Regions from separate parts of the Homo sapiens genome. Here region 2 is linked to region 1. Evidence: fine-mapped expression QTL. A gene starts in region 1. The other region holds a variant in brackets. All regions are shown on one strand. Distances are between the middles of the regions.

Region 1 (5,373 bases):
TGAAGCACTAAAACCACCTCCTAAAATGTAGGCCCTGTAGCCTAGAGCTCTGTTATTCAAAGTTTTATCCATCTCACTCTCCTTCCTTCCACAAACACCACCGGGATCCTCTGGATAATCACTCAATGATAGCTGAACATGTGTCTGGTTAAATTTCTAACATTTCCTTCAGGAATTAAGATTTCGTTTTAGTGCATATTCTTCAGGAAAAATCCTGAAAAGTACCACAATTCGTTATACATCTATGCATTATGTGCTCTATCTAAGAAAATCATTTTTAAAAAGAAAAAATAAAGACCATTTGGCTTAATTCTCTCATTTGTGGATGAGAAAATTAAGGCCCAGAGACGGAAATTTACTTGCACATGACAAATCATAACTTAATTGTAGCCCACTAAGATCTTGTGTCATCTCCTTTTATTATAAATTATTTAAAAAGTGAAAATGAACCAGGGGATTCAAATGTATTATTTGTTTATGGTGTTCCTCTCCTCATCTGGTTTAATTGAGTTTTCTTGACTAACCTTCAAGCAGCATTACATCTTTTCTAAGTTGGTCCTCTTTAATCATGCCCATCTGTAGCTGTTTTCTGTGTAGGACATTTTAATTACTATTATAGTTTTAATGACTTTTTTTTAAAAAAAGTTTTTTATATGTGCACAAGGTGAATTCATCATAGCAGTGCAACTTTAAATACAAATCAATAAAATTAATTCATTTAATTTTAAGGTGCTAGAATTAAAAAATGAGTATTTGAATTGATATTTAAAATGCCCTCTACCTGACTGTATGGGCAATAATTATTCTTTCTTATGCAGCCTTATTAATTTTGATGGTTTGAAAGACAGAAATCCCCCAAATAGACACTAAAACCCTAAATGTTCAACATCTGCATTGTCTCGCCAGATTCTCCTTCAGGTTCCTTTCCTCAATCTAGCAGTACTGTGTGTAACACAATATGAAAACTTGCCCCACAAGGCTGGTTTTACTTAATGATACTTAGCAGAAGGGCTTTGCACTTTCATGATAATTTCCACCAGAAAAATCTCTCTGGAACTTACTAACAATAATCAGGCCTAATATTAGCCTCAGTCTGGAGATTTATTTAACCTATTTGGCAGAGTAGATAAAGTCGAATGCCTAGGTATTCAAGCATCTAGGCTGTGCTTCGGCCTTGGAAAAAGACTCTCAGGCTAGCACCCTAAAAGCATTCCTCAAAACTTGATTTATACTAGAAGTGACATTTCTTACTCTCTAGAGGCTGTGAGATTGCAAATCTTGCAATTACTTCCATTGCTTTTGGGGGCTGTGAGAATTTCCGCCTCTCATCCTCCACAGTGAGGAGGGTAGTCGGGAAAGGCTTTCTCCCTTAAGTTTTCGTCAACTTTGAAAATAAGGACTGTGCTCCCTACATCACCAGCAATTGACAAGGATCCAGGAAATGCCTGCTAGGCACTTTCAAACTCGGAAAAATGGGAGTATGAGGGAGGCTAAGTAGGCAGTATTTAGCTAGCAACTATTATTTCCTTTATGTTTCTACCTTGTTAACTAAGCTTCCACTACGGTTCATAAATCTCCAATATCGTGAATTAAAGAAACAACAACAAAAATCCTCTTCTGTGTGCTTGTGCGTGAGGGGATAGAAGTCCACTGCCCTAAGATGCAGGACTTATCTTCCCAAACAGGAAGAGACCCATTTCTGAGAAAGATGGTAAGTTTCCTAAGGGTCTCCTCTCAGATAGAGGGGATGGCAGTCCCCGAGGGGCGAGCGGGCGCGGGTCCTCAGGGTCCCCGTGCGCTGAGAAGGCAGGTGAGGCCCCGCCCTGCGTCTCGACTCCGGATCCCGGGTCGCGAAGGGCAGCCCAAGCGGGTCCCCGGCCCCAGGCGCCCGGGTCACTTCACCCCACCTGATTCGGGCCCTTCCCTTCTCCTCTGTCGGCCAGCTCTGCCGCCTCGCTCTCTCTCCCGCCCCCCGAGTCTCGTTTCAGTCATCCCTTTGTCCTTCCCCGGATTGGCAGGTTTTATTATTCCGCCTGAACAATCCGGCCGCCCAGTGGCTGAGGGTCGCTGACGTCGGAGGCAGAGCCGGGGAGTAGTTGGGATTTTGCTCTGTCAGTAACACATGTGTAAGAGCCGCGGAGGGAGCGAGCGAGCCGGCTAGAGGCCAGCGCCGCCGCCGCCGCCGCCTCCGAGCCGGGCAGCAACAGCCCCGGCAGCGGCGCAGGCTCCAGCGCGCCGGGCCCGGCCGGCCGCAGCCCCCGACGCCTGGGTGCGCCTGCCTGCCGGCCTCCGCACCGTCCGCCGCCGCTCCCGGGGCTGTTGTGTCTGCGACTGCTCCCGGCCGGAGGTGCAGGGAGCTCAGCCGAGCCGCCGCTGCCATCCCGGAGCGAGCAAGCGAGCGAGCGCGCGGGAGGGAGGAAGGCGGCGGCGGAGGAGGAGGAGGAGCGGGAGGAGCGCGGGCGGGGGCGGGGGCCCCCGGGCGGGGGAATATACAAAGTGAAGCCACATTGCCAAACTTGCAGCAGCGATTGCAGCAGTTGCTGCCGCTGCGCCGCGCCTGAAGCCGCGCCGCGCGGGCCGAGGGCTCCTGCAGCTGCTCGCGCGCAGTCGGAGGCGGAGAAGGACGAAGACTGAGACTGACACTTCTGCTCCCGGCCGCCCGGCACTTACGCGGGGGCCCCCCAACCCGCCCCAGAGCAACGCGATTTAAAAAAAAAAAAAAAGCCGCCCTTAGCCCCCTCCTCCCCTTTCCTGCTTCTGCGAGAACTCCCTCCCTCCCTCCAGCTCCGCCAGCCCAGGCGCCCCTTCCCTGGAAGCCGAGCGGCTTCGCTCGCATTTCACCGCCGCCGCCTCTCGCAATATTGCAATATAGGGGAAAAGCAGGTAAGGGGGCGGGTGGAGAGCCGCGGGCCGGGAGGTGGGAGAGGGAGGGAGGGGGTCGATTCGGGCCAGGGCTGTTTTCTTTGGCTTCCTTCCCCTGACCGTCCCAAATTGCAAGTAAACAATACGTCGGCTTAGATAAAGCGCGAGTCTGAAACTACCGAGGCCGGCCTGCGAGCTAGCGCGGAGGGCAGCCCCGGGCCGCCAGCTTTGTAGCGGTTCCTGCTTACAAAAGGGCTCTTCTTGGAAACGGGGCTGGTGGGGACCGTAGAGGGGGTGGGGATATTTCTAGTTCATAAGGGAAAGGCAAGGGGTGCTTAGATGAGGATTTTAAGTATGAGAAGTAGTGTGTTTGGGGGGGTGGGGGTGGGGATAGTCACGATACCCCCCCTCCCTTCTAGTAAACACTATTTTTGAAACAGTGGCAGGAAGGATCTAAGTGAGCAGGATTCGGTATTGCTGGTTCTTTTAAAAAAATTCTTCTTGGCTTATAAGTCTTTTGTTCCAATCCAGGAGAAATACGGTGAATCACCTAATTAAAATCAAGACATGAATTAAGCATCCATTTTTGTACTACAAATTGCCAGCGTTACGTTTGTCCCTCCCTTGGTCTCCATTAAAAAACACCAGAGACGTTGTTAAAGGGGGGCAGATTTTGCCTCTAGCTGCCAGTTCTGCTTTCTATTTCACTGACTATCCCAGGACCTAAATTGCTTGGCTATGTAATTACTAGAGTATAAGCCTATTTAACTTAAAAGCTTTCTTTTTTTTTTTTTTTTTTCCAACTCTAAATGAAACTTGATGAGGGCCCGTCCTTAGTTATCAGGGGAGTCAGTTTCTGGTCAGTCTTCTTGATTCATCTCTTTTAGATTTAATCAGCATTAAGGTATTGCTTGTCCTTAAGAGCTTTAGCTAATGGGGTTACTGGATGCTTTTCTCAGTGTAATGTTTCCTTTTCAAAAAAAAAATACATATATATTTACCTCTCACTAAAGATGGGGGCGGGGAAGAGCTTGGAATCTCCTCCCTCACTCTCCTTTTAAAAAGGAATTCGGAGCGATTAAAACGTTGGGGGAAACAGTTTAAAGATCTAGGGCAGGAAATGCAGATTCATTTGGGTTAGGGCTGAAATTGTAACAAAAAGCAATTCCTCGAGTAAATGCATCAGATAAATCAATTTACATAAAGGTATGATGCATTCGGATAAATGCAATGCTAATGGGTTTTAGAGTGGTCCTGTTTCCAAAGTCTCAGGGTTTTGTTACAGCTTAATTGGTGCAGTTCTTATTCTGGTTTATTGTGCGGTCACTGGACACACGTTCCGGGACTCTTTCGGAGGAAATGTGTTTAAAATCGGCCTATTTAAGGAACCCGAGTCCTTGTTTCGTTCCTTCCTCGTTTTTTTTGCAGCAGCCAAGTTGGGCCGGGTACAGGCAAAGTTCGCCTTCTTCTGAGGTATCAGCTGAATGTCTTGAGCAGATAGCCGGGAGCCTCAGGGGGAGCCCACACTCTCAGCTTACAGAGGACAAAGACAATACAGGCTGCTTAATTGGCAGTAAATAACTTGATCTTTTTACAGAATAAGTGACTAGAGGAACACTAGGACTTTATTGGACTCGGGATTGAAGGCAACAAATTAATCGGTTTAGGCTAAGCTTTATAAATTGATTCCTATATTATATCCCAGTTGCATCTCTTGTGGCATTCATTAGAGTGGGGAATTCTTTTTTAAAGCAGTTTTTGGTGACAGCAGGACGGGCTCGAATTTAACTTGTGCATCCCTTAATGGTGCCTTCTCGCACATTATCTGTAACGCCGCCCGCCCCCCCCCCCCCCCCGCCCTTTGGAGGAACAAAGCTTTAGCATTTAAATTGCTGATCAAGGGCAGATTAGTGAGACCAAAGTGGAGAGTGTTTGTATAGGAAGTTAACAGGCATCCTAAAGTTCAATGATCTATTATTCTTGCCTGTGTCCTGAAAACCCAGAGAAAACACTCATTGATCTTCAAAATGAAATGAGATTTGGAACAATAATGGGAGATGGCGGTCACCACAATGGCATGTGAAAGGTGCTGCTTAAAATACGAAAAACCAGTTTCGCAACTTTACACACTGCACCCACCCCTCCCGTCACCTTGCCTTCCCTCCCATCACCACGCTCTCCGTCTCCCGTCTGCCGGTCCCTCCCTCGTTCCCTTTCGGAAAACCGAACTATTTCCAACTTGTGAACTGCAGCTGCACTTCCCGGGGCAGAACCCGGGAGGGAACGAGGCTCCGGCGGGGCCGCCGCCTCCCCACTCCTCTCGGCTCTGTCCCGGGGCCCGGCGGGGGCTGGGGAGGGGCCGGGCGCGGCGGTGGGTGGGTTTGACCCTCATTTGCTGGAGGCGGGCGGCGGAGGAGGGGAGGAGGGGGCAGTGGGCGGAGGCGGGGGCTGGGAGGAGGTGCCGCGAGGGGTGGAGCGCGCAGCGGAGCCTGCTCTCGGAGTTTTGACAGT
Region 2 (5,373 bases), 29 kb before region 1:
TTCTGAAGGCAGATAGACTTGGGTTTGGCTCTTGCCCAGGCTGGTCCTCAGCTATCCCCATTTGCAAAGTGGGGCAAATTCCCTCTTCACAGTGCTATGTTGGTTTTCTGGTGTGATACACATCAAAAGCTGGTTACGTATTAAGTACTCAGAGAGTGGCAAGGTGTATTAGTCTGTTCTCATGCTGCTAAAAAGACATACCCGAGAATGGGTAATTTATAAAGGAAAGAGTTTTAATGGACTCATAGTTCCACATGACTGGGGAGGCCTCACAATCTTGGTGGAAGATGAAGGAAGAGCAAAGGGATGTCTTACATGGCAGCAGGCAAGACAGAGCATGTGCAGGGGAACTCCTGTTTATAAAACCATCAGATCTTGGCTGAGACGGTGGCTGTAATCCCAGCACTTTCGGAGACTGAGGTGGGTGGATTGCTTGAGGTCAGGAGTTTGAGAACAGCCTGGCCAACATGGCAAAACCCTGCCTCTACTAAAAACACAAAAATTATCTGGGCATGGTGGTGGATGCCTGTAGTCCCAGCTACTTGGGAGTCTGAGGCACAAGAATCACTAGAACTCAGGAAGTGGAGGTTGCAGTGAGCCAAGATCATGCCACTGCACTCCACTCTGGGCGACAGAGTGAGACTCTATCTCAAAAAAATAAAATAAAATAAAATAATCAGATCTTGTAAGACTTATTCACTATCATGAGAACAGCATGGGAAAGACCTGCCCCCATGATTCAATTACCTCCCACTGGGTCCATCCCATGACATGTGGGAGTTATGGGAGCTATAATTCAAGATGAGATTTGGATGGGGACACAGCCAAACCATATCACAAGGCTTCTGCATTTTTTATTTTGAAAGCCCAGTTCAGGTCCCTTCCTCTGCAAATTCCTTCTGTGGACAGTATAATCAGCCAACCTCTGAGCCCCCACAGTCCTCTGTGTATATCTCTATTTAGCACTAATCACCGCTTGCTTTGTATCATGGTTACTTCTGTGTGTGTCTGTCTCTCCCACTAGACTCTAAGGTTTTTAGGGTCAGAGACCATGTCTTATTCATGTCCACATCTCCAGATGCAAGACCAGGACCTTACGCATTCAAGCTCTTAAAAATTTTTTGGTGAATTGAATTGAAAAACAGTGTGTTGGAATTGTGGGCTCCATTAATTATGTGCTACACGCTCCAAGTAGATCTCTCAGGAAGTCTGGGGGTCACTCCCACTCTGGCATTTAGAAACAGAGCCAGGCCACCTCCTATGTCATCTGTTCCTATTCTCTATTTCCTACTGCTCAAGCCACCAACAGCCTTCCTGACTGAAGCTTTCTTTTCTCGGTGTGTTTCAATTGCTGCAACGTGACCTGAGAAGTCCCTGGGGTGGGTCATGTGAGTTTCGTGAGTGATTGGAGTAGCCTTCTGCTATGATCTGAGTGTTTGGGTCTCCCCAAAATTCATACATTGAAACATAATTCTCAATGTGATGGTATTAGGAGTTGGGGCTTTGGGGGATGATTGGGTCATGAGGACAGAGCCTTGTGAATGGGATCAGTGCCCTTATAAAAGAGGCTCTAGAGAACTCCCCTGATGCTTCTACCACACGAGGACACATCTAGAGCCAGGCCCTCACCAGACACTGAATCTGTAGGTGCATTGATCTTGGACTTCCCAGTCTCCAGAACAGTGAGAAATAAATTCCTGTTGTTTATAAGACACTAATGTATGGTATTTTGTTACAGCAACTCAATGAGACTAAGACACCCTCTGTCATTGATTGGATTGGTGGCAGATGTAGCAGACTTGCTCCTCTCCCAAGTCTCCTTCAAATGACCTTTCCTGAGGCCAAAAATTCTGACCTGCAATTTTGAATTAAAAGCATTGTTTTCCAAAGTGTTCTAAACAAATGGGGGCATGGGATACGCTATCAAAGGCTCTATACCTGATGCTTACACCCGTGGCATAACTTGTTGGCAGCTTCATAGCAGAGAACAAGGCCCAGAAGGATGGGGACCTGGAGCTAGCATCCTCTGACCTGGGGTCTAGGTGTTGGGGGTGAGTGAAGAGAGGATTGTGTCAGCAAAGATGGCCGGGACATGGATAAGGCGGATGAAGCTGAGACTCCTAGGCAGGGCATAGGGAATGGAAGACAGAGAAGATGGGTGGTGAGGAAGAACGTCCCTGGGAGCCCTCTGC[T/A]TCCTTATTGTGCCGAGAGTAAACTTGGCTGAGGCCCCTCCTGGATTTCCAGCTGGTGGCTGAAGGTCACCCTGCAAAAGAAGGCACTTAATTCCCAAGTTGCTCCATTAAGGAGCAAAGAGGGAGAGAGGCAGTATACTCTGGCCATTAAAAGCTCTGACTCTGGGGCCTCACAGACTCAGGTTTTCATTCTGGATCTGCTAGGAACTAGCTCGGTGACTTAGGACAGTTACTTAACTCCTCTGTTCCTCACTTTCCTCATCTATAAAATGGGGACATACATAATGCCTCAGGAGGTTCCAAGGAGGATTAAACTTGGCTGAGATCTTCCATGGTAAGCACTCAATAAAAGGCAGCTAGTCTTACTAAAGGAGGCAGCTCCTGCTACTCTCACCATCTGTGCCTGTGTTCCACTGCAGACAGGACCAGACCAGCCAGAGAGGCAGTGATGGCAGCAGGCAAGCTAAAACTCGGGCCTACAGAATTCTCCAATGTTAGTCCCAGAAGGATTGGATTCAAAGTGTTATCTGATTCAGGCTTCCCTTTCAAGAGCAGAAAATAGGCCTAAAAAGGTCATATAGCTAACAGGAGGAAATAGGCCTAGGCAGATCATGTGGCTTGACATAGCCATATAGAGATGGCCACATAGCTGAGGAAGTCACAGGCAAGGCACTGGGAGCAGCAGGCTTTGTGGGCCATTTCCAAACCCATAGTAATCATCATCCTCAGAATAAAAGCCTCAAAATTCTATGCCCCATAGAAGGAGGTGGCTTTCAGATGGCAGATTGCTTGCAGGTTGGCTCTTTTAGGTGAGGATAATTCCTAGGCACTTACTCAGTGAACCTGGTCCATTTTTCTTCTTTCCAATCCTCTTCTCCTTATGGGGATGTTTTCATTGTTTTCTTTTCAGGCTGGGCTTAGCCCTGGCCTCTCCAGGCTTGTGGGTTTTCCCTTCCCCCGTCCTCCTCTGCCCTCCCTGGTTTCTACCAGGAATAGGCAGTGATTGAAATTATTGATTCAATCAGTTCATCCTCCTGCCGAGATGCATCTTGGCTGGATCACTAATTCCGGGGCCAAGCCTTAGCACAGTCCACTGGCTTCCCCTGCTCAGCGCCAGGGGCAATTGGAGCTGCAGAACCTCCTGGGGTATCATCAATGAAGCCTGGAGGATTTGACTGGTAATGGGCTCCTGGTTCTGAATCTGGCGCTGCAACTGAATCCGGGGAAACAGAGACACGTCCAGCTTCTCTGAAAGCCCACCAGCTTGGTCCATTGCAAACGAGGCTGACTTTCAAGTTCCTAGTTACAGTTCCCACTCACTGTTACAAGAAATCTCTCTGAGGATATTCTTTCCTATAGCATGGAATAATTTGGAATCACAAGAATGAAGACATTGCTGTTTCTCAAGTGATAATAAAAGCATCATCGTGGGGGCAATTTTGGCGGCCAAGTGACTGGACTTACTATAAATGCCTTCCTATTTTACTAGGTCTCTTCAGTTTCCTTGCCCGCCCTCATTTATTTTACAGGGATTCTGTGTAGCTGAAGTAATGTGCATGAATATTGCGTAACATTTTGTGGACGGATACAATATTGTAGAAATAATTTAATTGACGACCTGTAATGAAAAGAGCGCTGGGTAAGTAGCCTGGGTTGCAGTTTCTCTCTATATTTTTACATCACCAGGGATAGTGCTGTTGACATGAATAGGCCAGTATTGATTTCATTTAAAATTTTCAACATCTGAATGATGTGAGCAGTGATCTGTGGGAAGATACTGTGGAGTTGTCGGCATAGCCCCTGCTAACAAAATACCATTTAAAAAGGATTTTTCTATTAGCATTCACAAAGAGAAGAGAGAATAAAAAGGGTTATGAGAATGTTAAAATTTTCACTGACCAAAGAAATATGAAGTCACCATCTTCATTTTACTCTTAATTAATTCAGTTATTGGACCTTATATAAGCCTCTGTTAAATTCCTAAAAGAAAGCAGGCTGGGGCCTTGAGGTGGTTATATAGAATACTTTGTTTTCTAAAGGGAGTGACTTCAATCACCCCATGAGAAAGTCCCTGAAGGCAATCAGACTCCCCCAAGAAATGGATTTCAAATGCGGCAGCAACTCCTTAATGCTGCCCTGCTAATGAGTTCCAATTCAGTGGTTATGAGTTACCATCATTGAACAACAGTAGCACGAATTAGATTTTCAAACTTTCAGAGATGCAGTTTCTCAGGACCCCTGAGTCTACCAGTCAGATCATAGAAGGTTGAGAGGAGATAGATGCTGGGCAGGTGGCCCAAGGAGTGATTTTTAAAAGGCAATCCTGTGGTAAACTGGGGACACTGATTGGGTTCCATTTCTGGGTAGTGGGGGTTTGAGGTTCTCAGTTTGCCCAAGAGATAGGTTTGTTGTGAAATTATGGACCAAGGCAGAGGTTGCAGTGACCTGAGATTGCGCCACAGCACTCCAGCCTGGCGACAGAGCAAGACTCCATCTCAAAAAAAAAAAAAAGTATGGACCAAGTGGAAGTCGGCAGCTCCTGTCTTCATCCTTTTGTTGGCCTGGAGGTCAAGGAGAGGTAGAGGGACAATGCTGGCTGTGAAGTGCCTGGAGTGGCAAAAAGCCACCTCTTGAGCTTCTTCAGCCTTCCTGTCTTTCTAATGATGAGCTTCAGCTCAGGTATGGCAAAGACATTTGAAGAGAAAACTCAGGGAAGGAGCTTTCCAGAATCACTGGTAATGAGTCTGATAGAAGAGCTATCTGAATGCAGTGCTGCCCCGGCTGTGGATTCTTCCAGAAAGCTGGCCTCAGTTGGGCTGCTTTGGGCTATAGGACTCCGCTGCCTGCCTTGCCAAGCAGAGTGGGTATCTTCAACCTTGGATGAGGAGGCCCATGAAGGAGACCTGGACCAGTGTACACCGGGAGATGAAAGGGGCCTTGCTGGATGTTGTCCTGAGGGGAATGTACTAACCCTGGCTTCAGTTGTGGCAGCAACACAGAGGGAAGGGGCATGGGAGGGATAAAGATGAAAAGGAAGGCGAAGCATGAATACTAGTCTTCACCCGAAGAACAACTGGAAATCATGAAAATGTCTTAAACCAACAGAGACACGTCATTCTAAATGTGTCTGATAAAAGCAGTGCGAATATTTTTATTGACATTCTAAGAACATAACCTAGAT

Evidence for each region. PIP is the estimated chance that this variant, and not a neighbour inherited with it, causes the effect.
Region 2: its variant is the best candidate, but not a certain one, in a credible set for the expression of LMO4 in whole blood (TOPMed, PIP 0.62).

Annotation. Positions count from the first base shown.
Region 1 is chr1:87,326,362-87,331,734 of GRCh38, forward strand. LMO4 (LIM domain only 4) reads left to right here and starts at 2,519. Exons shown (of 5, transcript NM_006769.4): 1 at 2,519-2,883. RefSeq lists silencers at 1,721-1,890, 2,141-2,570, 3,494-3,583, 4,950-5,309 and enhancers at 2,429-3,006, 3,007-3,582, 3,148-4,693, 4,363-5,001, 5,002-5,373.
Region 2 is chr1:87,297,042-87,302,414 of GRCh38, forward strand. No RefSeq gene overlaps it. Among named protein-coding and RNA genes, the nearest start is that of LMO4, 29 kb to the right of the region's middle. The variant T/A (reference allele first, on the strand shown) is at 2,193.